Linked DNA regions of Homo sapiens. The protein of the gene in region 1 interacts with the protein of each later gene in a biochemical or structural test. Each region holds a gene or a part of one and is shown on either strand. Other genes may lie near its edges.

The links.
Region 2: the proteins of BCL2 (region 1) and BNIP3L form a complex in vitro, tested with the Homo sapiens proteins (one study listed by BioGRID and IntAct).
Region 3: the proteins of BCL2 (region 1) and SEPTIN4 interact in a test that uses a peptide from one of them, tested with the Homo sapiens proteins (one study listed by BioGRID).
Region 4: the proteins of BCL2 (region 1) and NR4A1 form a complex in vitro, tested with the Homo sapiens proteins (2 studies listed by BioGRID).

Annotation. Positions count from the first base shown.
Region 1 is NC_000018.10:63,127,747-63,134,769, forward strand, and holds part of BCL2 (apoptosis regulator Bcl-2), read right to left. Parts: intron 1,014-7,023; coding exon 879-1,013; 3' UTR 1-878. UniProt on the Homo sapiens protein: Suppresses apoptosis in a variety of cell systems including factor-dependent lymphohematopoietic and neural cells. Regulates cell death by controlling the mitochondrial membrane permeability. Appears to function in a feedback loop system with caspases.
Region 2 is NC_000008.11:26,378,934-26,386,075, forward strand, and holds the start of BNIP3L (BCL2/adenovirus E1B 19 kDa protein-interacting protein 3-like), read left to right. Parts: upstream 1-4,120; 5' UTR 4,121-4,197; coding exon 4,198-4,297; intron 4,298-7,142.
Region 3 is NC_000017.11:58,520,306-58,527,328, reverse strand, and holds part of SEPTIN4 (septin-4), read left to right. Parts: intron 1-350; coding exon 351-647; exon of another isoform or gene 648-1,015; coding exon 1,016-1,109; intron 1,110-1,511; exon of another isoform or gene 1,512-1,547; coding exon 1,548-1,634; intron 1,635-2,127; coding exon 2,128-2,251; exon of another isoform or gene 2,252-2,261; intron 2,262-5,227; coding exon 5,228-5,362; coding exon of another isoform or gene 5,363-5,447; exon of another isoform or gene 5,448-5,475; coding exon 5,476-5,593; intron 5,594-5,682; coding exon 5,683-5,784; intron 5,785-5,978; coding exon 5,979-6,075; intron 6,076-6,168; coding exon 6,169-6,331; exon of another isoform or gene 6,332-6,486; coding exon 6,487-6,586; intron 6,587-6,843; coding exon 6,844-6,903; 3' UTR 6,904-7,023. UniProt on the Homo sapiens protein: Filament-forming cytoskeletal GTPase. Pro-apoptotic protein involved in LGR5-positive intestinal stem cell and Paneth cell expansion in the intestines, via its interaction with XIAP. May also play a role in the regulation of cell fate in the intestine.
Region 4 is NC_000012.12:52,047,386-52,054,444, forward strand, and holds the start of NR4A1 (nuclear receptor subfamily 4immunitygroup A member 1), read left to right. Parts: upstream 1-4,056; 5' UTR 4,057-4,183; exon of another isoform or gene 4,184-4,278; coding exon of another isoform or gene 4,279-4,288; intron 4,289-5,110; exon of another isoform or gene 5,111-5,260; intron 5,261-6,941; coding exon of another isoform or gene 6,942-6,943; coding exon 6,944-7,059. UniProt on the Homo sapiens protein: Orphan nuclear receptor. Binds the NGFI-B response element (NBRE) 5'-AAAGGTCA-3'. Binds 9-cis-retinoic acid outside of its ligand-binding (NR LBD) domain.

The DNA.
Region 1 (7,023 bases):
CAAGTTCCAGAGGATTCTGTTTCTTACTCAGACAGAGCCAGTATTGGGAGTTGGGGGGTGCGTATCCAAAATATATGAATATACACAATCAGGGCTTAAGGTACTGGATGATATTGTATAAATTGCTAAAATGCTTTTCTCGGCACAATTGGTAGCTTAAAAAAATACTTTCCTATGATTTAAGGGCATTTTTCCCATCGCTGTCCTTCGGCGTGGAAATCTCAGTGGGTACTAGGTCCATCTGAAGTTCCCAACTCTTTTCCTCCCACCAGGTATGCATCATGTGAGTCATATGCAAAGAGTCTCTTCTTCAGGCCAGGGAGGCATGGACTTCCCCCCACAGGAACCCTCCCTCTGTTAATATCACAGCCCCCAGGGCAAAGAAATGCAAGTGAATGAACACCTTCTCCCCAGCCTCCAGCAGCCAGAAAGCCAGCTTCCCCAATGATCAGGTCCTTTTTCCATCCGTCTGCTCTTCAGATGGTGATCCGGCCAACAACATGGAAAGCGAATCTATGTTTACAGGCACAGAACATCCAGGTGGAGCCACACGAAGCGGTGCTTGGCAATTAGTGGTCGGATTTCCAAAGACAGGAGTTTTGATGGGACTGTCTTAAATAAATAAATCTTTTTTTCTTAATAATGTAAAAAATAAATGATATTTCCCTTTGGCAGTAAATAGCTGATTCGACGTTTTGCCTGAAGACTGTTAATTGTTGTGTGTGTGTGTGTCTGTCTGTGTGTGTGATGTTTATATGTGTGTTATTTTTTCTTAAACAGCCTGCAGCTTTGTTTCATGGTACATCACTGACAATGCATATTATTTCTACTGCTTTAGTGAACCTTTTGCATATTTGTTTGGGGCAGGCATGTTGACTTCACTTGTGGCCCAGATAGGCACCCAGGGTGATGCAAGCTCCCACCAGGGCCAAACTGAGCAGAGTCTTCAGAGACAGCCAGGAGAAATCAAACAGAGGCCGCATGCTGGGGCCGTACAGTTCCACAAAGGCATCCTGCAGTTGGGGGAGAGGAGGGAAGAAAAAGAAAGAGTATTAGAGAGAGAGCAGAGAATGCCACCCCACAGAGAAAGAGGCATCCTGCCAGGGCAGCCTGGGCACCTTCAGAAGGGTGAGAGGGGAAAAGGCAAATGCTCTTTGGAGGCCATGATTCAGAAACCACTGTTTTCATTAATTCAAGGCATATTTATTGAGACCCTCTTTACGTGCCAGCCATCTTAGAGATACAGCAGTGCATAAAATAGACTAAAAGTTCCTACTTCACGAAGCTTCCATTGAGTGGAACAGTATAGACAGCAATCAATATAAATTATCACATGGTGTAGGAGAGAGTGCTAAGGGCCGAGGAGAAAAACAGCAGAGGCAGTTAGAAAATATTAGAGGTTTTGCAATTTTAGCTAGCATGCCCATCCATAAAAGTAATAAAATCTAGCAATGATGATGACCGTCACACTCCTCGATTGAGTGTTGACATCTTATCAAATGTCTGACATGCATTATTTTAGTCTTTGTACCAAACTTTTTCTTTCTTTTTTTTTTTTTAGAGACAAGAGTCTTGCTCTGTTGCCCAGGCTGCAGTGCAGTGGTGCAATCATGACCCACTGCAGCCTCGAACTGTTGGACTCAAGAGTGATCCTCCTGCCTCCGCCTCCTGAGTACCTAGGATTACCATGCTTGGCTAATTTTTAAATTTTTTGTAGAGATAGGGTCTTACTATACTTTCCAGGCTGGTCTTGAACTCCTGGGCTCAAGTGAGTCTCCTGCCTCAGCCTCCCAAAGTTCTGGGATTAAAGGCATGCGCTTTCTCATCCAGCTAATTCTTTGTACCAATCTTATGAAGTTATTTTATTTGTTTCTGTTCTGAAGATGAAAAAGCTGAGAATCGCAGGGAATAAGAGACTTTTTAACAAGTGGCAGAGCCAGGCTTTGAACCCAGATAGAAACCAGCACCCTTCTCTCTGCTGATGCCCTGGCGTGGCTAACGGCAGCTCTATGAGAGCATTTGGTCAGTCAAGGGCTCAGTCAGTGGAGGGGCCAAGGGCGGCCTTGACTGGTGCAGTGCCAACCTCTAAGGTCAAGGTTCTCCTGGGGAAAGGGAGCTGTCAGGGGGTTTCTCTTGGGGGTGGCTAGACTGGACGACCACAACTCTGCATTTACTCAAATTGTGGATCTCACAAGGCAGGAGATCAGGGGTGTGTCACTGGATGTGCAGGTCCCTGAGAGACAAAAAGTGTCTCCCTTCCATTCCTATCTCTCCATCTCAAGTCGGGTCTGTAGTGTGTTGTAGCAAAGTCTACCCTCTGGATGGGCTTGGATTGAGCAAATCACCAATTGCTCATTTCCTAGATTTTGGGGAGATTATGTTTCACATTTGGGTCCAATGAGTATTTGGACAACTTTCTGAATGAATATTTGAATATATAAATCAGTAAATGAATTCTTTTTACTTCTGATTTATTCAGGATGAAGAAGAAAACAAGAATAGTTTCACATTATTCCCAACAACCCTGACTCAAAGCACACAGTTTTATTACAGGAAACAGTAACATACCATGACCCTGGACATCGCTGTTGGGAGGGGCTCCAACAGTGCACAGAGGGGTTCCCTTTCTCTGGGGCAAGGGCTGTAGCAGTGGGACCAGGGATTCTCTTTGTCTCCCTCATGCTGGGCATGGTTGTGGTGCACTATAGGTGCGTAGTAAATGTTTGTTCACTTAAGCTTTCTGAATACAATCATTGGTCTTTGGCTTAATGCTTTACCCAAATGCTTATGAATCTGTTTGAAATTACTCCTTCTATATGTAACAGCCTCTGAGAATCCTGAGGTAGTCTTGATGAGGATTTAAAGCATTGTTAGGGTAACTTTCCACATTATTAAATATAGATTTATACAATTATTTTCATGATATATAAAATGTGCCATACTTTAAAAAATTCATGTTTATAGTGTTTAAAACTTTTGCTATTATAAACAATATCATGATATATTTTTGTATATAAATTCTTGTCTATTTGTTCAGTTGCTTTTTTGAAACAAACTCCTAGAAGTGACCTCAGTTAACCAGTCATCAATATTGCTTCCAGACATCATGAAGGGCTTGCCTTGAGCCATCCTCACATTCTCATGGATTGCCCTCCAACCAATGCCACCTTTTACAAAAGGCAGGCAAGAATTTAGGGCGAGGGTCACACTGAGAGTGATCCTGTCCCCCAGGGGACATTTGGCAATGTTTGGAAGCATTTTTAGTGGTCATGATTTGGGGTGAGGGTGCTACTGGTATCTAGTGGGCAGAGGCCGCGGATGCTGTTCAACATCCCACAATGCACAGGGCAGCCCCCCAATGCTAACAGGGCCGAGGCTGAGAAACTCTGGTTTATAAGATGCTCTGTAATCACAGACCATAGAAGAACAGATGACCCATCCTGTGTGTCAACAGCATTGGTCAAATCAGCACAATCAGCTAGCCCAGACCAGCGACTGCTAACCCAGTGGGCCTTCTGCATCTTTGGAGGTCCTTGGTTAACTTTTACCAGGAGAGGGCGCAAGGGCTTTCTTCTTCTTTTTAAATATCTATTGTTAAACATTTCTAAATTTCAGTGTTAGAAAAGCGAGGCAATAGACGTACATAAAATGTGTGTTTAGTGCTCTTAGCACAGAGCTAAGGCACAATCATGATTGTCTGCCAAGATGCACACCCCTCTCCATATAAGCAGGGATCAGTGGGGCAGGAAGGAGTCAGGACTTCTCCACAAGCCAGAACTCTGCCTCTTCCAGGGAGCAACCCAAGACATCACAGACACGGCTGCAAATGTCAACTAGTCCTCCCATCCATGCTTCTCTCTCTGAGGGATGGGTAGGCTGAAACCCCCAATAGCCCAGCCAAAAGACACCCCAAATTTGTCAGGGCACTGGCAATAGGTTGTCTGCAATTTGGCTTGACATTGAGAAGGTCAGTGGCCGGGCTCTGAATCCCTTTAGTAATCAACAGAGTTTTGTGTGGCAAAATCTGAACCAGACTAAGCCCCTGATCATTTGTCCTGTCTGGACCTGAAGCCATCCTGGGAAACCGGAGGATGCAGGGACATACTCCAGCTGGCATTTTCTCCCAGTTGGTCTGGCACACAGTGCTGGAGAGCAGAAGAAATGCTGTCCCAAATATCCCCACCTCCTCAGAGCTGGAATAATTCCCTCTCACCACCCTCACCCCCACACAAATAACAGTGCTTCTCATGAACCTAACAGGCCATTTCTGATATGCATTACGTAGAACAATGTCATTTCTAGAGTGAGATGAGCTAAACTAGCAGCTCTTGGCCCAAAGCCTCAGCATAGAGATGCTGTTGCCATCCCAGGGGGCTGAGAAGGGCATGGGACTTGGAGGAGGAGTGTGGGTGAACCCTGGCTTTGATATTTTATTAGTTTATAACCTTCAGCAGATAACCCAGCCCCGAGCCTCATTTACTTCATCCATAGCCATAAAATTCATTATTGTGAAGATTAACGTAGGTCACTCAAAGCCATTTGTAAATTGGATACAGAAAGTGAGCTCGTGGCAGAACAAACACCTTGCTCTTGTCTGTCCTCTTGCAGACCTGCTCCGCACCTACTCAACCTGCCCTTCCCCCAAGAAGTTCTGCTGAGCCTGCCGTTTTGCAGAAGCAATTTCCTCTCTTAGCTTTCTGATCTGAGGATAGTCCGTAATTTCTATAGGAATTATGAATTAAAATGTATACATCCCGTGTTCTGGTCAAAGATGGGAAGTGATAATACAATGCCTACCTATCTGTCCTTCTTTACACATTATTAGAGTGTAGGGCTAGAGGGCAAGTCATTTAACCCCCTGGAGGTTGGAGCTGGCCTCTAAACTTTGCCCTTCTACAATTCCAAAGTGCAAAGGAGACCCTGCGGCTTCGGGACTAAAATGACCTGAAAGCTTCTTTCGTAGAAAGTCTTCCTGATTTTTCAAACATCCTGATTGGGGCGATTTCCGAAGTCTGTTTGAACAGTCTGTCATTATTTGTTTGAGTTTGAAAGCTGTTTTAAATAAACACATGCTCATTTTATGTATTAAAAGCAACAAAGAGGGAAAAAGAAAACCTGGGTCGTCATGTGATTCGGACAAAATCCCAGTCTATATATTTAGGAAGCTCTGTGTCCCTTGCTCATGTCAGGACTGGCAAGGGCTTACCCGACTTCACGGATCACAGGTTCACACGGAAAGGCTGGCACCGGCTCCTCCTATGAGGAGGAGATGGGCAGGGCCTCAGCTCTGGTGGCTCTGTCCACAGTGGCTTCCCCATAAATTTCCAATTCAGAGGCCACAGAGGATCTGAGTTCCACCCAGGGCTGGCCCAAGGGGACAGGATGGCTAAACTCCCAGCCGCAGCCTTGCTGCAGGTTTGGAACCAGGCCAGGTAGGTGTGGACGGGAACAGACCAGGGTCAAGACTCCTAAACTCAGCAAAGGTGTCCTCACCCCTCCGGGCCATGGAGCACTCCCACCTGGGAGGCAGCCATCCTCCAACATTTTCCTTTTCCGTTCAGAACCTTCAAGAATTTTTTTTTTTTTTTTTTTTTGAGATGGAGCCACTGTCACTCAGGCTGGAGTGCAGTGGCTCCCAGGTTCAAGCAATTCTTCTGCCTCAGCCTCCCGTGTAACTGGGACTACAGGTACCCTCTACTACGCCCGGCTAATTTTTGTATTTTTAGTAGAGAAAGGGTTTCATGTTGGCCAGGCTGGATTCAAACTCCTGGCCTCAAGTGATCCTCCCACCTTGGCCTCCCAAAGTGCTGGGATTACAGGCATGAGCCACCACCCCTGGTCCACTTCGAGAAATTTCACGTAAACCTAAAATGAGAATTTTTTTTAAAAAAGGTCAGATTGTCAAGAATGGAAGAGAAGGTTAATTCTAAGTGCTGAAAAGAATGGCATGCGGTTGGGGATATGGGCGGGGGTCCCAAAATAACCCTTATGCCCAGGTAAAGGTAAACATGGAGACCTTTTGAATTTGGTAATGCATATCAAAAGGCTTTTAAAAAGCTTTTGTTAGTAATTTCACTTCCAGTTATTTATTTTGGAAAAATAATAAAGTGCACAGATTATGTATAATAGCATAAACCTGGAAACAAATGTCTGAAAATAGATGACTGACAGCGCGTCCACATGATGGAGTGCTGTTCAGCATTAAAAGTCATACCCTATAGTTATTGGCAAGAAATTGTGTTCCTAAGGTCATATTGAGTAAAGCAGGACAAAACGGTCAGCAAAACACGATTCCACTTCTGTAAAAACCTAACATATACATGTGCGCGTTTACAAACAGAAAAAAATAATATAAAGGAAAACGCAAAGATGTTAACAGTGATTATCGTTGAAGGCAGAAGTAGGCATGAGGACATGGCATTTAAGAGGCTATTCTGATTTTTTTCCTTAGCTGTCTTTTCTAATTCAATACAAACATGTATATTACTATTTATGAAATATATTTCAATATATACTACATAGAATAATGTTACATTCTAAGTGCTTACTTAATCTGAAAAAAATCCAGACTCCATAATTTGACAGACAAAAATGCTGGGAGATGATGTCTAGTAGTGGGGAGACATGGGCTCCCAGGCAGCAGCCATGACCTAGAACCATGCAACAGGCCCCCGGTTAAGTGAGGGCCTCCTTAGACCCTGGCCCAGAAGAACTCTCATGAGCTCTGCCCCTCAGACCAATGCCTGCAATAAGAGGTTCAGGCCCCGAGCTCAGTGTGTGTTCTCAGCTCTCTATATACTGGGGAAATTTAATATGGCTTGGCTGGCTATAAGCAAATTCGAAATTCAGCTACATTCCACAGTCTTTGAGCTGACTATGCATGCAGACGTTATACAATCGAAGGGAATTCTAAGGGAGAAAAGCCACCCTGTCCCCAAAGAGCTTACACTCTAGAGAGAGGTAATGCCTCTATGTGCACATTTGAACTAAACTAAATCAATGGGTGCCGCCATTTTGTTCCTG
Region 2 (7,142 bases), on another chromosome or scaffold:
TACAGGAATATATAACCCCCATCCCCACAGAGTTAGTCCATAAGGCCTCAGTGTCTGCATAGAAATGTGGACCTACCTCTACTAGAGAACTATTTACACTGCACTGTAAATACACGTCTGTGTCCACCCCCACAACTAAGCTGTCAATGCCTTGAGTGAAGGGGTAGTTACAACTCAGTCATTTTGTATCTACAGTGACAATTAATAGGCACTCAATACTTTTTTTTGCATGAATGATAAATGATATTACACTACCACCACTATTTACATTAACATTTCCCATCATTAGCTGTCCCCAAAATAAAAACACCAAATTGCTGCCACATTTTCAGCAGTTTTCATAATATAGTGCTTCTGGACTTTTTAATGTAAACAAACATGCTTGATTTACCAATTTTCAGAGTAATGACACAAACTTAGCATTCTTCTTGGAATGGAAAACTTTCTGGGAAGTTACTTCATTCTTTTTCTCTTTTCAAAAGGCATCTCGCAGCGCCAACTGTTTTTCTCAGAAGGAACGCTTATTTTCTGACCAGACATTCTGGCTATACCACATCATCATAAAGTTCTTCTGTTTTTTCTTCTCTTTACTTTTTGAACTGGAAAATGGATTCACTTTGGTTTTCTTCCTCACAAATTCTTTTCGGTCTGTCTTTCCAGCCATTGCAGTTGCTAGTCTTGTCTCTTTGTCAGATTTTGGCTTTTTATGAAGGCGTTCAATGTCCGGAAGAGAAAGTAATTCACCCCTCGGCTCTTCATCACTGTCGATTTCAATATATTTCCTCTTCTGGGATTTCCCGGGGACAGCGTCAAGTTCTTTTCTCATTTGCGCCATGCGGATTTTCTGGAAGTCTTCCTAACTTAAAACTCGACTGGTGCTGACGGCTGCAGTTTTGGCTTTCTGCTCCTCCATGGGCATGGTGTTCAGCTTCTTGGAAATTTCTTGCTGTTCTTCATTGGAAGAGTGTTGCACATCAACCCATTCGCCATCGGCATCCTCCTCCTCACTGAGACTGGTACTTTCCCATCCATCTTCATCATTTTCAGCACTCTCCTCTTTCTCAACTTCCAGAACTTCTGCTCCTGGAATGTAACCTTTAGCATCTAATTCTCCATATTCTTGTACTCTTGCTTCTATGGAGGCTTCTGTAGGCTTACCCCAGAATTTCTTCTGCAGCATCTGAGGATTCAGTGTTCGGAAGAGCCGAATCAAAGTTCTAGCAGACATCATTACATTATTATCCTTGTGTGTTTTATACTGAGCCAGGTCTTGGAGAAGCTTTTCAGTCATGGCCAGAGGACACTGAGCTGTTGTCTCTTTTACAGCATTGATTCCTATTGTCATGGCTTCTCCAGAGTTCTTGTCGTTAACAAAATTGTTGGCCACAGTCATAAGCAATGATTGAATAATCGCTGGGTGTACTAGGTGATGAGATGCTTGTGCAGCAAACAGAAGGTTCTTTGTTACTTCTCTTTGGTGGGGCTGCAGAAACCTTCGCAAAAAGTGATAGAAATTGAAGAGGAAGAGCTTATGAATTCCCACCAATCTGAGATGAGGTTCATGAGCATCATCTTCACTTCCAACCTCTCCTTACAGCACTCAAGCTGCTTTAGTAGTTTTTCTGCAAAATCTTGGGGATCATGAATCAAGTGAACGGCTAAAAAGTTAAACACCTCTGGTTTTTTCTTCTTCTTTTGTTTCTTGAGCACTTTCATTGCCTTTTCCAACTTTTTCTTGTTTTGGGAACTTTGTTCCCTGTAGCATACTGTGCTAGCAGGTCTCTTGCTGTTGGTCCGTCATCCTCAGATTCGGAGTCACTGGCCTGTTTTTCATCTTCATCTTTTCCAAGAAAGAATGTCAAAGCAGCAACTAATATCTTGGTGACCTAAGAGAAACATGCAGTTGTGATAACATTGACAGTTTTGGTATCATTCCAGATGTTCCTTCTGTAGAGTTCAATCATAACATCTAAAGACATCTTGGCTGCAGTTGCATTGCTATCTCTCAACATGGTATACATGAAATTTTACAATACTACATCCACTTTATTCTTGTGTTTTGCATTTATATTCTTGATATCAGTCACGATATATGTGTATGAAGTCTTTTGCAGAAGCTTATCATGGCAACAGAGAAGTTCAAAGAAGAGTTCTAGCAGGCTTGATGGATTGATGAGATTCTTATTTCTCAGCAAGATCAAAGCTTTGCAAAATGTCATTCGAAGATCTGGATCCAATACAGTATGATTACAGGACAGAAGATCTTTCACCACTTGAGGAAAATTACTTAGATACCCTGGGTAGCAGTAACTAATCTATAACAAAGCAAAGGCTCTTCTGAAGTTTCTCTCTTTCTCTCCTATTATTCAGATGCACATATTTAGGACGTTCTGTGCCATAAACACCACCAGCTCTGCTAGTTCTTTACCGGGTTTATATGGTTGCAATTTGAAAATCTCCACATTGGATGTGTAGTGATTATACTGCTGTAGAAACTCCTAGATGGAGGGTGGTGGGTCTCGCTTCATCAGATTCTGTAACTGCAGTCAGGTTGCTGGGCAGCTTGTTGTTGTTTCTGCTGGACATTCTGGCTGAAGACTGGCTTCGCGGCGAGCAGTTTTAATAAAACTCAGATGGCCAGCAGCCGCCAATCCCTACCAGCTGCGGCTTGAACTCCTGCTTCCGGGTATGACCGGAAACAGCACTCAATCTATTAATAGAGTTCATTTCTGACCAAAATCTTAAAAGAATTTGCAAAGGGATTTGACAAATCAATCCTTAAAAAAAACCTTTTAGCATGGACTTTTTCAAATATATTAAAAAATTAGAGGAATACTTTAATGTATTACATAGCTTCAATAATTACCAACACAAGGTCAATCTTGGACAAGTCCATTTTTAAGTTCATCTGAAGAGTAACTAGCCATTAACATCTGAAAAAGACAAAGGAAGAGAAACTTTAATAGTTATCTAACAGAGGTATTGCAGATAGCCCTGAAACAGACTCACATTTTTGTGGTCATTCAGAGAGTGACAAAGGTGCAATTTCAAATCAGTGTAGAAAGGATGGCTTAAAATTAATATTATTAGGTCAATGGGCTACAAAATTGGGAAGAATTGAAGTTAAATAATTTACAGCATATGGAAAATAAATTTCAGATGGATTAGAGCTCTAAATGTAAAGTTAAGCCTATAAGAAAATTAGAAAAAGTTATAAGGGAATTATAGATTAGTAATCTTGGTGTGACTGTCTCCCCAAGCCATGTAAGAATGATAAATCTGATTACATGAAAACCTTAAGCTTCTACAGAGTGAAAAAAACAAATTAAAAGACAAGTTAGAGACTGCGAGAAACATATGTCACTCATAAATCAGACCAAGGAGACTGGACGAAGACATGGAGATGTGAAGTAGGAGGTGTGCTCAGGAACATAGTTTAATGTCATCCACGTACAGGATAAACGGCTTCCCACGTCATGTCCCAGAAATCGATTAGTCGATGGGATTTGGGTGAGTACTTTCTTCTCTCTGTTTTCCTGAATTTTTCTTTTTTCTTTCTTCCCCTTTCTTCTTTCTCTTTTTTTCAGAATGATGGTGTGTTTGTAATCGACATTTTAAAAATTCTGTAACAATTAAATTTGGGGGCGGCCTTCCCTTGTTTCCCGTATGGAGTGTTGATGTTTCAGCAGCTTTATTTGGAGTTTACACGTGGAGGCACCTGGGTTTGGGGATTCCTTTGTGTCCCCAAGACACCTATTGCAGAAGTGAGTCCTAAGAGGTAGAAAACAGATGCGTGCGCAGGGCTGGGTGAAGCACTGTGGAGCCTGTGTGAGAGGAGGCACGGGCGCGAACACAGGAGCGCACTTCCTCATTCCGTTTCTCCTCATCCTCTCTCCCACTGCCACTGGCATCACTCATCCCATCCGGTCATCCCAAGTCACACGCAAGAGTTCGTTCCCGGCGCGCGCGTCAGCCTGACTCGAGCGTCTCCACGTCCGGGGCCCGCAGGGGAGCGCCCCTGCCCCGTCCGGTCGCTTGTTGTGTTGTCATCACGTGGCCTGGGCGGGCCCTGACGTCAGGGGCAGGGGAGGGACGGCGCAGGCGCAGAAAAGGGGGCGGCGGACTCGGCTTGTTGTGTTGCTGCCTGAGTGCCGGAGACGGTCCTGCTGCTGCCGCAGTCCTGCCAGCTGTCCGACAATGTCGTCCCACCTAGTCGAGCCGCCGCCGCCCCTGCACAACAACAACAACAACTGCGAGGAAAATGAGCAGTCTCTGCCCCCGCCGGCCGGCCTCAACAGTGAGTGCGGGGCCGAGGCTCTGTGAAGGGGATGGGGGAGGAGGAGCAGCCCCGGCCGCCGCCACCGGCGCGGCGCGGGAGGCGGGAGGAGAAGGCAGCTCATTGGCTCAGGCATGGGATGTCCAGGTGACTGACAGCTCCCGTCCCCTGTCAAGAGGAGGGGCGCCTGCCTTGCTCCGGGCCTCTCTGTTGCCTCCTGGGGTCTTGGGCCCGGGGCCGTTTGGGCTCGCGGTCCGGGAGCGGCGCGGGTAGCGCGGATCCCCCTGGTGCGGGGGGTGGTCCCCAGCAGCGGAGCCGGGCGGGGCGGGGCGGGGGCGGGCCTGGGGGGCGGGGAGGCCGGGTGGGCGGAGCGGGCCGCGGAGGGGACGTGGGCCGGGATGGGGACGTGCGGCGGGGACGCCGGGGGATGGACGCGCGGGAGCGGGGCGGGGCGGGCGGCTGCCGCGGGACGTGTCGGGGATCAGGTGTGCGGGGCTCGCGGGCGGGCAGCGTCTGGCGGGCGCGGGAGCCCCCCAGCGAGCATTCCTTTGTTGCCACACGTTTGTCAGGAAAATTCATTTGCTCGTCTAGGGTTGGCTTCAGTCACGTGTGGGGTGAGAGGCTGTGCCTTGCTTCTCCTTTTTCCTTTTTTATTTTTTTATTAGATTTCTCGAAGTTGCCCAAGTGATTTTTTTTTTTTTAAAGCGATGGGTTGTGCGCCCAGTAAAGCTGAGAGCAGCCTCCTGAACCACCCAAGATTGCACACGTCAGGGAGTCTGGGGCCATGCATTTAAAGAAACGGAATTAAAAACGCACTCGGGCAGTTGAAAGTTAACGGACGAGGCTGATAGACAACCCAGGCCAGGGTCTTTTCATAACATTCCGCTGCCCAGACATCTTGTCCTCAGATTGTTCCTAGTCGTGAGAACCGGGAGCCTTCTTGGAAGGGTTCTTGCCTAACCTTTCTTTAATTCAACTCTTGGGAAAGAGGTAATGGGAGCAGTGAGCATATGGCCAGATGAAGTCTTTTCAAAACCACTTGGATGCTTAAAGGTCATGCAGTATCTTTCGTAAGAGGGAGGTGCTTCCAGTGTGGCCTGAAGATTATTTTAGGGAAGAGAGTTTCAGCCCTCACCAGGTAGCGATGGAGTTTGGAGATTTTAAGATGGATGCTGCTGCTCCAGGTTTTGATGGGTTAATTCCCAAAACCTTTAAGTGTCATATATTCCAGAATGTAAGATGGTTATATTATTTCCCACAGTAAATTAGGATGAATGTATGAGTCTTTAAACGTTACTTGTATCACATATTCCTATGCAATTTTAAGTTATTTGCCCATGTTTAGCATACTGTCTTAGATTTTAGAATGGGAAGAAACTTCAGAGCTAGCTAACTGCCTCCTGTTGTTTGCCTGTAGAGAAACAGGTCTAGAGTAAATGGCCTTGTCCAAGTTCACAACCGGCTGGGAGCAAAGCAGAGGTTCTCATGTTCAGCCTGTCTACTGCTCTTTTGAGGACATTTTTTTTTTTTTTTTTTTTTTTTTGAGGTAGAGTCTCGCTCTGTCTACAACCTCCGCCTCCCAGGTTCAAGCGATTCTTCTGCCTCAGCCTCCCGAGTAGCTGGGACTACAGGTGCCTGCCACCCGCCCAGCTAATTTTTGTATTTTTAGTAGAGACGAAGTTTCGCCATGTAGCTGGGATTACAGGCGCCCGACACCAAGCTAGGCTAATTTTTGTATTTTCAGTAGAGAGGGGGTTGTTGGTCTCTCACCATGTTGGCCAGGCTGGTCTCAAACTCCTGACCTCACGTCATCCGCCCGCCTGGGCCTCCCAAAGTGCTGGGATTACAGGCTTGAGCCATCGCACCGGCTTCTTTTCAGTGGTGCAGAACCTCCTGCTGGTGTGTGTGTCTTATTTTGTCAGTGTGTTATTCTACCTAATTGACAAAGGTGGCCAACCTTTCTGTTTCTTTTTAGTATTGTTTCTTAATTGTACAGTTTTCTTATGAGTGAAGATACTTGGTAGGTGTACGTGATTTCACTGAAAGCAAAGGGATTTTCATCTTCCTTTGACCCTTTAACAACAACAACAAAAAGGGCTGAGCCAGGCAGGGCACGATGGCTCACACCTGTCATCCTAGCACTTTGGGAGGCCAAAGCGAGTGGATCACTTGAGGTCAGGAGTTCGAGACCAGCCTGGCCAACATGGTGAGAGAACAACCCCCTCTCTACTGAAAATACAAAAATTAGCCTGGCTTGGTGTTGGGCGCCTGTAATCCCAGCTATTCAGGCGGCTGAGGCAGGAGAATCGCTTGAATCCGGGAGGCAGAGGTTGCAGTGAGCCGAGATCACGCCACTGCACTCCAGCCTGGGTGACAGAGCAAGACTCTGTCTCAAAAAAAAAAAGGGGCGAGGGCGGGGGCTGAGCCATATGTCATTGTTTATCTTGGTGTCTGACAGACCTATGAGGAGTTTGATGTCTTTGGCCAGTCGGTTCCTGCTTGGCTGACATCAGCTCTTACAGAGGTGGAAGTACACTCAGCCTGCATGGGACATCAAAATGTTGCTTTGGGACATCTGCTAGATAGAAAGTATTTTGTGTGGGATAGGGTGAGCTTTCTGAAAAGCTTTTAGATATTGCCATATTTAATTACTCCCTTCTTGCCTCTCACTCTGTTCGTTTTTTTAGCTCATTACACAACACTGTACTGAACAAAACAAGAAGCCTCATTGAATTCCTTGAAGTGATTTTTGGGCAATGGGCAAAACAACTTATTCAGGCATCTAGTACTATCCAAATTGCTGATAAGTCGAAGGACTTTGTTGGGTAAAGTTGCACAACTGAAAAACAGGAGAAGAAATGTACAG
Region 3 (7,023 bases), on another chromosome or scaffold:
CTAGGCCAGAACCCCAGGAAAGGCAGCCTCAAAAAACATGCTGCTGAGAAGGAGACCAGAACTGGAGTTCCTTAGTTCCCAAGAGCAGTTGCCAGGGCTCTGGGGGTGCCCAGGGCTCTTCCTGGACCCTGGGACCCTTCCTGGCATATTGGATTGGGGAGGCTTGTGAGCAGGTGAGGGAGGGATGGTGAGCACTTCCTCTGTCTTGGCTGCAGTTTCTTTTTCTTCTAACCACAAGTGCTTTCCCTTTCCCTCTTGCCTTCTCCTGTCTTCTGTCTCCTTCCTCATTCTTCCCTTCCGGCTCCCTTCCCGGCACCACCCATCTATTCTACCCACCCCGCTTCCCCCAGATCAAGCGTTTCCTGGAGGACACCACGGATGATGGAGAACTGAGCAAGTTCGTGAAGGATTTCTCAGGAAATGCGAGCTGCCACCCACCAGAGGCTAAGACCTGGGCATCCAGGCCCCAAGTCCCGGAGCCAAGGCCCCAGGCCCCGGACCTCTATGATGATGACCTGGAGTTCAGACCCCCCTCGCGGCCCCAGTCCTCTGACAACCAGCAGTACTTCTGTGCCCCAGCCCCTCTCAGCCCATCTGCCAGGCCCCGCAGCCCATGGGGCAAGCTTGATCCCTATGATTCCTCTGAGGTAGAGCCTCCAGCCCTGCCTTTGCCTTTCAGTGGGCTGCTGCAGGAAGACCGGGGGCAGGGAGCAGAGTGTGTGTGTGTGTGTGTGTGTGTGTGTGTGTGTGTGTGTTTGTGTGTGTGTGTATCTGGGACCTATTTCAGTCCTGTGTCAGCCCTAGCTCCAAGATATCTGCCCCCAAGGGCACTGGAAATTTGCAGTTTCAGCAAGGGCAGGAGGCCCAGCTGGTGGCCTCAGATGGGAACTCACAGAAGTCTGGCACTGCTTTTTTAAGGCTGGGGCAAAGGCCTGAAAGGGAGAGAAGATTGGCGCTGGGTGCCGGGGCCCCTTTGGCTCCTCACCGTGATGCATTCTGCCTTCCTGTCTACTAGGATGACAAGGAGTATGTGGGCTTTGCAACCCTCCCCAACCAAGTCCACCGAAAGTCCGTGAAGAAAGGCTTTGACTTTACCCTCATGGTGGCAGGTAAAAAAGGGGCAGGGCTGGGTTGGGCAGGGTGTGTTTCAGGTGGGGATGGTGTGTGTGTCCGTGAGTGGGAAGGGAGTATAGGTCGCAGGGAGCAAGCAGCGAGTGGCTGTACTGTTTTGCAAAACAGCCAGGAGTCATTGGCCTGTGAGAGTGTATGTATGTGGGGTGGGGTGGGGGTGGGGGTTCGAATTGGTTGCAAAGAGCATCTGACCAACAGTTTCCTAGCATTTGCCTCTTTTTGTGTGACCCTGGGCAATCTCTTGCTCCCCCAAGCCAATCTCTGTGCTTCCTCCCAGCTCTAAAATGCTATAGTTTGGTTAGTCTAGTTCCAATTAGATAAGAAAGCAGTCCCCCCTAAACCTTGATCCAGTGGAGTTGCTTTTTGGCTATAGATCTTACCTTCTGATTTGGTGCCTCTGTCCTCTCTCCTCTCAGGAGAGTCTGGCCTGGGCAAATCCACACTTGTCAATAGCCTCTTCCTCACTGATCTGTACCGGGACCGGAAACTTCTTGGTGCTGAAGGTAAGGAAAGGAGAGGACAATCAGGCAGACTTGCCTTGGGAAATTAAACTCACTCCAGAGTCTGGGGGATGGGGCTCTCCCCCACATGCAGGAAACCATGGCCTCCTAGAGAGACTGACAGCAGCTCTCCATAGGCCTAACTGCCTGGCAGCCCACCAGCCAGCTCCCTAAAGATTTGGGTGCTGAAGCAGGGCAGAGACCAGAGTCTTGCTCTCTGAATGAGTCTCTGACCCCCAAGGATTCCAGGAATCCAAGAAAAAAACCGGGAGCAGAGAAGAGGCTGGGGCCAGAGCCAACAGCCACCGGCATTTCCTGTGTTGGGAAATGTACTCCTTGCTGGTTCCCAGAGAACAGTCCCCCAGACAGCTTGGGAGTGGAGAAGGGGGCAGTGTGGATTAGGCAGTCTGAGCAACAAGGCTGGTTGGGGTGGGCGGTTCATCCTGACTGGGCAGGTCCCTGCCCTTGCCCTGGCCTCAGTTTCCCCTTTCTCCAGAGAGGATCATGCAAACTGTGGAGATCACTAAGCATGCAGTGGACATAGAAGAGAAGGGTGTGAGGCTGCGGCTCACCATTGTGGACACACCAGGTTTTGGGGATGCAGTCAACAACACAGAGTGGTATGTCTGAGTAAGCACAATCCCAGCTGCCCCTGAGCCACCCTTCTCCATACACAGGTACACACGTAGGCCCAGATATATCCATACTTATCAGGAGGAAGCGGTCTATGACCTTGAGCATGTGACTTCCCTTACTGGACAGCCATCTCCTCCTTTATAAAGTAAGAGGGAAAGGATTGGAATAGATGATTTTTAATGTTCCTTCCAATTCTGCCCTATGATTCTATAATGGGGTAGGGACATAAGAAAGAAGAGGCTGAGGCGGAAGTATCACTTGAGGCCAGGAGTTCAAGGCCAGCCTGGGCAACATAGTAAGATCCCATCTCTACAAAAAGTTTTAAAAATTAGCTGGGCATGGTGGCATAGGCCTGTAGTCTCAGCTACTGGGGAGGGTGAGGCAGGAGAATCACTTGAGCTCAGGAGGTTGAGGCTGCAGTGAGCCATGATTGCACTACTGCACTATAGCCTAGAAGACAAAGCGAAACCTTCCAAAAAAAAAAAAAAAAAGATAAGAAAGAAGAGCCTTAAAAACAAACACATGTGAAGTGTGAAAACATGTAGCACAGAGTTGATTACATAGTAGATGCCGAATAAACTGTCACCCTTTTTCCTTTCACTAGCAACATTTTAGGTGCCGCACACAATCTTGTTGAAGGGCTGGGCATGTATGGAGGGAGGGTAAAGGTGAGGAAGAATAGGCAAAAGGGAAAAATGGTGGAACTTTGTTTAAACTCCAGGCACCCTCTAGGCTACCTGCCGAAAGAAAAGCTGGATTTACCACAACCCCCTATCATTCGGGCTTTTTTATTTTTCAGGCACTGGAGGGACCCCCCTCCAGCTAATGGTCAGTAGGTCTGACCGTTACCTCCAGCTTAGGTAATGGTCAGACCTAAGTGAGTAGATGAAGAGGGAAATGGATGAGATTGACAGGAGAAAAGGTGGTAGCTTTGATGAAGAAGTTAGGCAGGCAGTGCTAAGAGCCCTAGACAGAGAGTTCAAATCTTGATTGGCATTTAGTAACTTCATGATCTTGAGCAAATGATCTCCTTCAATCAATTTACCTACTGTCTCTTACCTTCCATAATACTAATAATTTCATTTGCCAGGCACCTCACAGTTTAAAGTGTACCTCCATATATATTCATTTTGTCAGACACTTATTTAATTAAAATATACCAGCCCTTACCACCTCTCCAATTGATTTGAACATCACCCAACATGATGCATGCGCACTGAAAAGTGTAAAGGGCTATTTACAGCATACTCAGGAATTTTAACAATGGTAATTGCAGGACCAGCAACATAATTTGTTGGGCCCAGTGCAAATGAAAATGTAGGGCCCCGTGTTCAAAATTTTTAAGAATTTCAACATGGCAACGGCAGAGCATCAAATCAGCTAGAATGTGAGCACATACTAGATGTCCAGCCTGTGGTGGACATTTTAAGGGATTCAGAACAAGCATGAATGATTCCTATCCCTGAGAGGCTTATAGTCAAGTGGCAACAGGGAAGCAGGGGAGGTGGGGGCAGTTCTCTAACATGTTTCAATCAGATAGCAACTTAAATTAGTAAATGGGTCAGGCAATGTGTAGTGGCAAGTGCACTGAGCTGTAGGGGTTCAGGTGGGTAGAGAATTTACTAGCTAAATGACCTACAGAAAGTCCTTTTCCTTTCCCTCTCCTTCCTCCTTTCTTTTTTTTTTTTTTTTGAGACTGGTTCTCACTCTGTTGCCCAGGCTAGAGTGCAGTGGCCTGATCAACCACCTCCCGGGGCTCCCCGGGCTCAGGTTATCTTCCCACCTCAACCTCCCAAGTAGCTGGTACTACAGGTGTATGCCACCACACCAAGCTAACTTTTTTGTATTTTTTGTAGAGATGGGGGTCTCGCTATGTTGCCCAGTCTGGTCTTGAACTCCTGGGCTCAAGTGATCAGCCTACCTTGGCCTCCTAAAGTGCTAGGATTACAGGCGTGAACTACCACACCTGGCCTGGAGCAAATCTGTTAGCTGCTCTGGATTTAGTTTCTTCATGTATGAAATGAGAGTGATGATGATCATAATGCATAATGTCCACCTGTCAGGGCAGTGAGGATTAAACAAGATAATAGAAGAGCAAAGGATATGAAAATTGAGGTTCTTGGGGAAATTTATTTATTTATTTGTTTTGCTTTGTAGTGAAGAGAAGGGGAGAGCAGTGTGTATTGGTATAGTCAAAGGAGACTTCGTGGAAGAGATGGTTCTTAGGGCCTTGAAGGATGGAGTGGGTTTGGAGAGGTAGAGGAAAGGGTAGAAACACATGAGCAAAGAGGCTCTGAGGTTACACTGGAAACCTGACTTAGGGTTTCCCTGGCTTCCAGTTGGTATTTGCCTGCAGCCACCTTGCTATTCTTTTTTTCTTCTTCTTCTTCTTTTTTTTTTTTTTTTTGTGACAGTCTGGCTCCATCACCCAGGCTGGAGTGGTATGATCTTGGCTCACTGCAACCTCTGCCTCCTGGGTTCAAGTGATTCTCCTGCCTCGGACTCCTGAGTAGCTGGGACTACTCAGGTGCACACCACCACGCCCAGCTAATTTTTGTATTTTTAGTGGAGACAGGGTTTCACCATGTTGGTCAGGGTGGTCTCAAACTCCTGACCTTAAGTGATCCACCCGCCTCGGCCTCCCAAAGTGTTGGGATTACAGGGGTAAGCCACCGTGCCCAGCCTATTCTTACTGCTTTGTTTGATCACCTGGGCCCTTTCCCTCTCATCAAGCTAGTATTTATTAAACTTGCCTGAGTACTCAGTCTAATTTTGTATCAGGACATGTGAGATACACCCCACCCCATTCAGGAATTTCTCTAAAGATTTAGTAAAGCAAGCCAGGGAATAACAGTGTCTTAAAAACACTGCTCAGGGAGTGGGCTACTTCTCTGTAGTCCCAGAGCTCACTAGGTGGCTCCCACTCTCACAGTTTCTCTGCTTGTCTGTCCCTGCCCCAGCTGGAAGCCTGTGGCAGAATACATTGATCAGCAGTTTGAGCAGTATTTCCGAGACGAGAGTGGCCTGAACCGAAAGAACATCCAAGACAACAGGGTGCACTGCTGCCTGTACTTCATCTCACCCTTCGGCCATGGGTATGGTCCAAGCCTGAGGCTCCTGGCACCACCGGGTGCTGTCAAGGGAACAGGCCAAGAGCACCAGGGGCAGGGCTGCCACTAGCAGGTGGTCACAGGTTCCTGTTCCCCAGGCTCCGGCCATTGGATGTTGAATTCATGAAGGCCCTGCATCAGCGGGTCAACATCGTGCCTATCCTGGCTAAGGCAGACACACTGACACCTCCCGAAGTGGACCACAAGAAACGCAAAGTGAGGGAAGCTGGTGGTGGGAGGGGATCAGGTGGGCTTCTAGAAAGGATGTGGTCCCCAGAACTGTGGGCCCCTCATCTGTTTGTCAGATCCGGGAGGAGATTGAGCATTTTGGAATCAAGATCTATCAATTCCCAGACTGTGACTCTGATGAGGATGAGGACTTCAAATTGCAGGACCAAGCCCTAAAGGTGGGGCCACTCTAGGGCATCCCATTCCTATCTTATTTCTTCCGGGTAGAAAAAGGGAGTAGAATTCTATATTCAGGCTATCAGGGTGGGAAAGGACCCTGGCTTCCTAGAATGAAGCAGAGAAGATGACGATACAGGTGGAAAGAAAGAGGTGAGAACAGAGGGTGCTGACAGGCACCCCTAACCTCTTCCAGGAAAGCATCCCATTTGCAGTAATTGGCAGCAACACTGTAGTAGAGGCCAGAGGGCGGCGAGTTCGGGGTCGACTCTACCCCTGGGGCATCGTGGAAGGTAAAGCACTGAGCCTGTGACCAGGGTATCTCCTTGCCCTCAGTGGCTCTCCCCTACCTATGCCTCTGGCTGACCCCTAGCCTTGCTATGCAGTGGAAAACCCAGGGCACTGCGACTTTGTGAAGCTGAGGACAATGCTGGTACGTACCCACATGCAGGACCTGAAGGATGTGACACGGGAGACACATTATGAGAACTACCGGGCACAGTGCATCCAGAGCATGACCCGCCTGGTGGTGAAGGAACGGAATCGCAAGTATGACCAGAAGCCAGGACAAAGCTGGCAGGGGGAGATCCCAAGCCTAGCCTTGGGTGAGACCAAGCCCTACTTTTGTTCTTCTATAGGCCCTGGGCTCAATCTAAGCGGGTGCTGGGGTCCTCCTCGCCTTATCAACCCTTTTCTCCCTTTAGCAAACTGACTCGGGAAAGTGGTACCGACTTCCCCATCCCTGCTGTCCCACCAGGGACAGATCCAGAAACTGAGAAGCTTATCCGAGAGAAAGATGAGGAGGTGAGAGCAGTATGGGGTATAGGGGAGGTCTCCTGTTTGATCACCAACGTTGGTATCTCTTTGTTTGGTAATAGAAAGATCCCTGGCTCTGGTGCATATTTGGGTCCTGGATAGGTCAATAGGTGGTTCTGTCCAGAGTCTCCATCACACCTCACGGCTACCAAGGTTCTGGCTTAAGGGATTAGAAATTTGGGGCACTTTCCCAATACTAAAGGACTCTCCAAAAGTCCCCATTTTGATGCCTGTGCCTATTCCAGCTGCGGCGGATGCAGGAGATGCTACACAAAATACAAAAACAGATGAAGGAGAACTATTAACTGGCTTTCAGCCCTGGATATTTAAATCTCCTCCTCTTCTTCCTGTCCATGCCGGCCCCTCCCAGCACCAGCTCTGCTCAGGCCCCTTCAGCTACTGCCACTTCGCCTTACATCCCTGCT
Region 4 (7,059 bases), on another chromosome or scaffold:
GATCCCCAAGCCCCTTTCACCTCTCTCGCCTTTATCTTAGGCTAGGTGCTCCACACGGGAACCTGCATTGGTGGCCCCAGCTGTGTTTCCACAGAGGGACTTTGCCTTTTTCTCCTTATTTACTTATTTTCAGAATGTGGTGTGTTGAGCACCCCCACCATCTCCCACCCCTGCAAGCATGACCAGGTGGCAGCTGTAGTTCCTTATCCTCCTCCAGGCTTTGGGGCAGCAGGACTGCAGCCTCCATAACCTGCAGCAGCTTGGGGAGGTGGGGCCTGGGCTGCAGGCCCAGATCTGGAGGCTAGATGCTGAGATTCAGACCAGGGACCTGGACAGCTCCTCACCACACTCAGTTTTCCTTGGGCTTATGGGTGGGCCTACCCCACAGGATGGTCTGTGCCACTTTTTACAAATGCCAAGTTGTGAGGAGGAGAGGAGGGTGCCTGAGCTTGAGGCTGGTTCAACTCTCAAAGAGCTAGCAAGGCTGGGCCGAGGGCGGTGGCTCACGCCTGTAATCCCAGCACTTTGGGAGGCCAAGGCGGGTGGATCACGAGGTCAGGAGATCGAGACTATCCTGGTTAACACGGTGAAACCCCGTCTCTACTAAAAATACAAAAAATTAGCTGGGTGTGGTGGCAGGCACCTGTCGTCCCAGCTACTCAGGAGGCTGAGGCAGGAGAATGGCATGAACCTGGGAGGCGGAGCTTGCAGTGAGCCGAGATCGCACCACTTCACTCTAGCCTGGGCGACAGCACCATCTCAAAAACAAAACAAAACAAAAACAAAAAACAAAAAAAGAGCTAGCAAGGCTGAGATTGAGCACAGACTGGTCAAGCCACAGATAACGCACTTGTTCTTGCTGGTTGGCAGGAAGAACAATGGCTTGGCTGATCATCTTTTGCTACCTATTAAAATTGGTTTTATTTTGGCCGGGTACAGTGGCTCATGCCTGTAATCCCAGCACTTTGGGAGGCCAAGGCGGGCAGATCACAAGGTCAGGAGATCAAGACCATCCTGGCTAACACAGTGAAACCCCGTCTCTGCTAAAAATACAAAAAAATTAGCTGGCGTGGTGGCAGGCACCTGTAGTCCCAGTGACTCGGGAGGCTGAGGCAGGAGAATGGCGTGAACCCGGGAGGCGGAGCTTGCAGTGAGCCGAGATAGTGCCACTGCACTCCAGCCTGGGTGACAGAGCGAGACTCCGTCTTAAAAAAAAAAGTTAGTTTTATTTTCTAGGGAAGGCCCTGCTGGGGTGGAGGGAGACATCCTGGGGCAAAGTGGGTGCTAGGTGAGGAAGTCAGCCTGTGACACAGCTGGGATCAGTTCCACCCAGCAAGACTTGCTGTGTGCTCCTGAGCAAAGTGTAGCTCCTCTTGGAACCCTTGACTCCTAATCTGCAAAATGGGAGGACTTGAATTCTATATGTGGTTTTAAACCTTTTTTTTTTTTAAGCTGTGGAGTCATTTTCCACAAAAGGATTCCACAAAATCTAAGCAAAATCTTACGGAAAAGCCTAAGAGAAAGAAAAGCAAAACTTTGCCTGAAATGAGGTAGGGATCCTGGATGGGTCCAATTGGCATCATCCTGCCCACACTTCACATTCAACCAGTGGCCTTGAAGGAAGATGGTTTGGAGCAACCCAGAGCTCTCTGCAGATGCATTCACGTTGAGACTGTATGCTGGGATGGAGGGTTCTGGCAGGTTCTGACCAGATGACTGAATGCCATCAGCATTACAGTCACCCCTTGGTTTATGAAGGGGGTTGGCTCCAGGACCCCAACTTGTACTGCGAATACTCAAGTCCCACTGTTGGCCCTGTGGAACCTGTAGATACTAAAAGTCGGCCCTCTGTATATGTGGGTTTTTGGATCCATGTTGGATTGAAAAAAAATCCCCAAATCCCCATATGAGTGGACCTACACAGTTCAAACGTGTTGTTCAAGGGTCAACTGTGTATGAAGACTGCTCCATCTGTGGTGGACAGTGAGGCTTTAGAAAGAGGAGACAGGCAGGCTAATGGATGGTCTTCATGGGTGTGGGAAAGGAGGAGTGGTCACTGGGCGCAGGCAGTTGGTCTGTGGGACCAGTGAGGCATGGGCTGTGGCTGGCAGTAGGAAAGCGGGAGAGGCTGAGTGCAGTGGCTCATGCCTATAATCCCAGCACTTTGGGAAGCCAAGGCAAGAGGCTTGAGCCTGGGAGGTCCAGGCTGCAGTAAGCCATAATCATGCCACTGCATTCTAGGCTGGGCAACAGAACAAGACCTTGTCTCAAAGACAACAAAACAAAACAAAAACGGGGAGAGGAAAGGACCCAAGAGATGTTCCAAAAAAGAATTTCAGGAAACAGTGAAAAGTTGCAAATGGGGCATCAGGAGCCAGGAGCAGAGATTAGGTGGCAGGCAGGGGGTGCAGAAATGACAAGTTCTGTCTGGAACAGATGAAATTTGAGGTGCTTGTGGGACCTTTGAGTGGGCAGAAGCGGGGGCTGGAGACAAGGGTGTGGGAAAACTGTGATGGGGGTTGAGGGTGGAAATCGGGCCGGCAGAGCCTCCGGGGCAGAGAAAGTCCTATGGGGTGACCAGATGAGTTGAGAACTGGGTGGGTGGGTGCAGGCTCAATGGAAGCAGAAACTCATGGATATTGACTTACATGGGAGAAGGGGAATGGATGGGGGTCGCAGTGGGGTGGCAGGGCTCTCTTTTCCTTGTTTTTGTTTTTTTGCCCTTCCCTCTTCTCTTACTTTTCCGTGAGGGCTCCCCAGGCTCAGGAGAGATCAGGGTGGAAGGGTGACGGCCAAACCAGGGAAGGCTCCAGGTGGCTGAAGCCTGGTCTGTGCCCAGCAGGGCCCTGGCGGGCTGTTCCTCACTCCACCGGGCAGGTGATAACTGGTCAGAGCTGCCTCCCCACAGGTGCTGGAGGTAGGCTGGGAGGGCCGGTGCTCCCTGATGTGGACAGGGGGAGGGGTATTGATAAGAGGCGTGGAGAGATCCCTAGAGATGCAGTCTGTGGCCCTGGGTTCCAACCCAGTGTGCCACCACCTGGCTGTGTGACCTTCAGCAAGTGCCATTATTTCTCTGAGCCTGTTTGTTTATAAAATGAGGAAGAGTTGGCACAAGTTTGAAAAGATTTCTCAGGCTCCACCCGGTTCTGAAATTCGGTAATTTCCCAACTAGGGTGCACTCCCCCTGTAAGGGGCTGGGGAGGGGACGGTGCGAAACCAAGTTCAGCTTGTGGAGCGGAGCCAGAGCTGTTGGCCGAGCTTGGGCCTGGCCAACGCCTGCCCTCGGGAAGGTCCTGTGTAGGGAGACTGCCTGGAGGGACTAAGCGAGGGCTCTAACTGACGTCTCAGGGGCAGCCTCTCAGCCTGAGACCCTGCTGGGGAAGCCGCGTCCTGTGCACTAGCTGCGCCTAGGGCTGAGGTGAGGGCGCAGGCTCCCCAGGGTGTGTCCGAATTGCCCGCCTCAGCCCGCGGCCTGTCCTGACCGCCCAGCAGCGGCAGCAGCGACACCCTAGGGCTCCAGGAAGGGCTTGGGAAGGTGTAAAGGCGGGGCTAGGCTCGGAGGGAGCCGGAGGGACCGGGCGCGGTTGGCTCCCGGGAGCAACTGGAGAGTGAGGAGATCCTCATCCGGGGAAGCCCCGCGGCCGCGTCTCTACAGCGCCCCTTCTCGGGCTCTGGCCCTCCCGCTGGTTATTCTGGACCTGGGGGCCCCCAGCTGGGACCCGAGTCCGGTGCGGGGAGCCTAGTGGGCCTGGGAGCTGCTATTTTTAGCGGGCGCGGCGGGCGCGAGGAGCCTATTTATAGATCAAACAATCCGCGCTCCCTGCGTCAATGGAACCCCGCGTGCGTCACGCGCGCAGACATTCCAGGCCCCCCCTCCTCGCCCCGCCCCCTCGGGCTCCCCGGGCCGCACCTCCCCCTGGCCGCCTCCCGCCGGAACCGCACCGCCCCCCGCGCCCTTGTATGGCCAAAGCTCGACGGGCGGCCTGCGTCAGTGGCGCCCCCGCCCCTCCCCGTGCGTCACGGAGCGCTTAAGAGGAGGGTCGGGCTCGGCCGGGGAGTCCCAGTGGCGGAGGCTACGAAACTTGGGGGAGTGCACAGAAGAACTTCGGGAGCGCACGCGGGACCAGGGACCAGGCTGAGACTCGGGGCGCCAGTCCGGGCAGGGGCAGCGGGAGCCGGCCGGGTAGGTTCCCTTCGGGGAACGTGCATCTGTTTTTAGGAGCGGTGCATGAAGGAGATGGGTGTACGCGCGGGCAGAGAGGATGTTGTAGGGCCGGCATGCAAGAGGGTAGGTGTAGTGTGCAGCTGTAGCACAACGGGATGAGAACCCAGGTCAGACTGGAAACTACTGGGTGCGGGGTAGGAGGTAGGGGAGGTTGACTACCTGCAAAGTGGAAGCTGTAGGGGGTTGGGGTTGGCGCCGGGAGTAGGGACTTGTCCAGCAGGCGGCTGGCCTTAGTTCAGTCTCCTAGGGTGCCCAACTGGGCGCACGGTGCTCTGAACTTGGGTGGGTGTGGATGGGGGTCACAGCACCGTGGGGGAACAGGTACACAGAGCTTTGGCGCTGCTGGGATCCGTACGATTCTAACTGGGATTGGATTTCCAAAAGGCCCTCCTTCCTCCCAGCCTGTCAGCTCCCTCCCAGTGTCCCGGTTGTTTTCTTAACACTTTAGAGGCTGTGGCTGAGTTGGCAGGGGTTCCCCACCCTGAACTTTCTGTCTGAGGTGCGTTAGGAAGCCTCCGGATCATTGAAGGAAGTGACTGGCTTGGTGGCTGACCTGTGGAGGGCTGCTTGCTGTGTATTGAATAAAGGAGGCTTCTTGGGGTCGGGGCAGGGTCTCTGTAAGCACAGGGAGAATTGATTTCGCTGGGGCTTGGATCACGTGTGTGTGTGTGTGTGTGTGTGTGTGTGTGTGTGTGAGAGAGAGAGAGAGAGAGAGAGAAAGAGAGACAGAGGTGGAAACCCTTGTCCTTGGGGATCCTGGATAGAAGTTGCCAGTGTTGGAGTCTTGGGGCGGTGCTGCCTAGAGGATACCTCCCAACCATTCCAGCTCCAGATGCTGATCATCCCTATGCCCCCTCCCCCAGTAGTCTCTGTTGGATCTTACAGGTAGGGTGCAGCCTGAGGCTTGTTCAGCAGAACAGGTGCAAGCCACATTGTTGCCAAGACCTGCCTGAAGCCGGATTCTCCCCACTGCCTCCTTCAACCCCGCCTCTTCCTCCTCCTGTGGGACTGCTCCCCCCTCCTGTGAGGCTAGATGTAGGTCCATATCTTGTGTTGTTAAGAACCTGCATGAAGGGGGAGGGACTGATGGGGGTTGATCCGGATGTGGGACGTCCAGGTGGAGAAACAGGATTTGAATAAGGCAGGAACAAGCGCCCAGTTCTGCCCAACTGCTGTCTTTCCTCCTTCACCCCCAGCCCATCCCTGGCCAGGCTGTCCTAGTGCAGGCAGATGTGGCCACCCTCACCTCTCGCAGGGTGCTGCATGCCTGTGGACTGGTGCCACTGGGTGTGTGGGGCCTGAGCTACAAGGGTCTCTGTTGTCTTGGTTGTCAGGCTAGGGGTGGAGGTGCCCTGTTCAGGGCCTGTGGAGTTAGAAGGAAGGCTAGGACCAGAGAGGACTTCCTGGGCTCTTGGCCAGGAGGTGGTGACAGCCTTTGCCCCCATCACTGCACCCCTTGATTATGGTACTCTGTTCCTGCTTGATTTCTTCTCCAGCTTCCCTCATTGACTGGTGAGGCCAGAGTTACGCAGACCCCAGGTGTGTAGGTTGGGAGGGAGACTGTCCTGGAGCCTCCTCTGCATTATTTTTTGACCATTCTGTGAATGTAAGGATCTGCCTGAATGATGCTATCTCTGTTCAGGCTCTCTTCAGGCTCCTCGGGACTGGGGCTGTGTAACCCCCTTTGCCTGAGCCTCTGGATTCTTCAGGGCACAGACCCTGCTTTAGTGGAGGGACCCAGGCAGGGGCAGAATGTCTTCCACCCACCCACCAGCAGGCTTCTCCTTAAGTCTTCTGCTGGACTCTCAGAGTTCTCTTATTAAGATAACTGGGGGCAGCAGAACATTCTTTTTAGGTACTGTTGTCCATTCTCCTGAGAGTCCAGGGGGCTGTGGTCTCCTTCCTCCCCCCTTGCCCTGTCCCCAGCAAATGGCCTTTAAAGGTCTGGAGCCAGGTTACCGATGAGGAGGCCTAGGTTCCCTTCCTCTTTGCTTCTGGGAGCATCTCGAGCAGTGCAGAGTGGCTTCCCAGCCCCAGATGGCAGGATTGGGGTGGGTTTGGGATCTGCTGCCTTTGCTCAGTGTGCAGGGTTGGGGTGGAAATGGGGGACAGGCTAGGGCCTCTGCATTAGGCTGCCTTCTTAGGCAGGTGGGCTTTCACTTCCAGCTCCTCTTCCATTTTCACGATGTCCTTCTTCCTAGGCACTGCGAGGGGAGGAGAAAAGGGGCTTTGCAGAGGCCTGGGAGTATTCCCAGGAAGTGCCTGGTTGGCGAAACAACCAGGGAGCTGCTCCTGGGAGCTGGGCTGAGGCTTTGCTGGGCTGCCTCTCCCACTCACCCTTCTCCCGGCCCCCACCATGCCTTCCCCATGGGGGAGGGGCAGGGGGCTGGAGGAACACAGCTTCCCCCTGTTCTAGCAGAGAAATGCTGGCTGTATGCCTCCCCTAGGGTTCCCAGGCTGACTAGGGTGTGGCTGGCCTTCTGATGGAGCCCACTCATGCTGGGCCGCTGCCCAGGGGCTTTGTGGCACCTAGGTCGAGATGGTACTCAGGCCAGGGGTCAGGATTCCTGGGTGCTCTGGTCCCGGTGCCTCTGTCTCATCTTTAGGCTGGGATTCCTGCCACCTTGCTGCTCTGGGGCCCAAATACTTTGAGACAAGGCTATAGGCTTGTCCCACTGACTCTCCTTTCCCTCCCTGGGGTCTCCTCTCTCTCCAGAGATGCCCTGTATCCAAGCCCAATATGGGACACCAGCACCGAGTCCGGGACCCCGTGACCACCTGGCAAGCGACCCCCTGACCCCTGAGTTCATCAAGCCCACCATGGACCTGGCCAG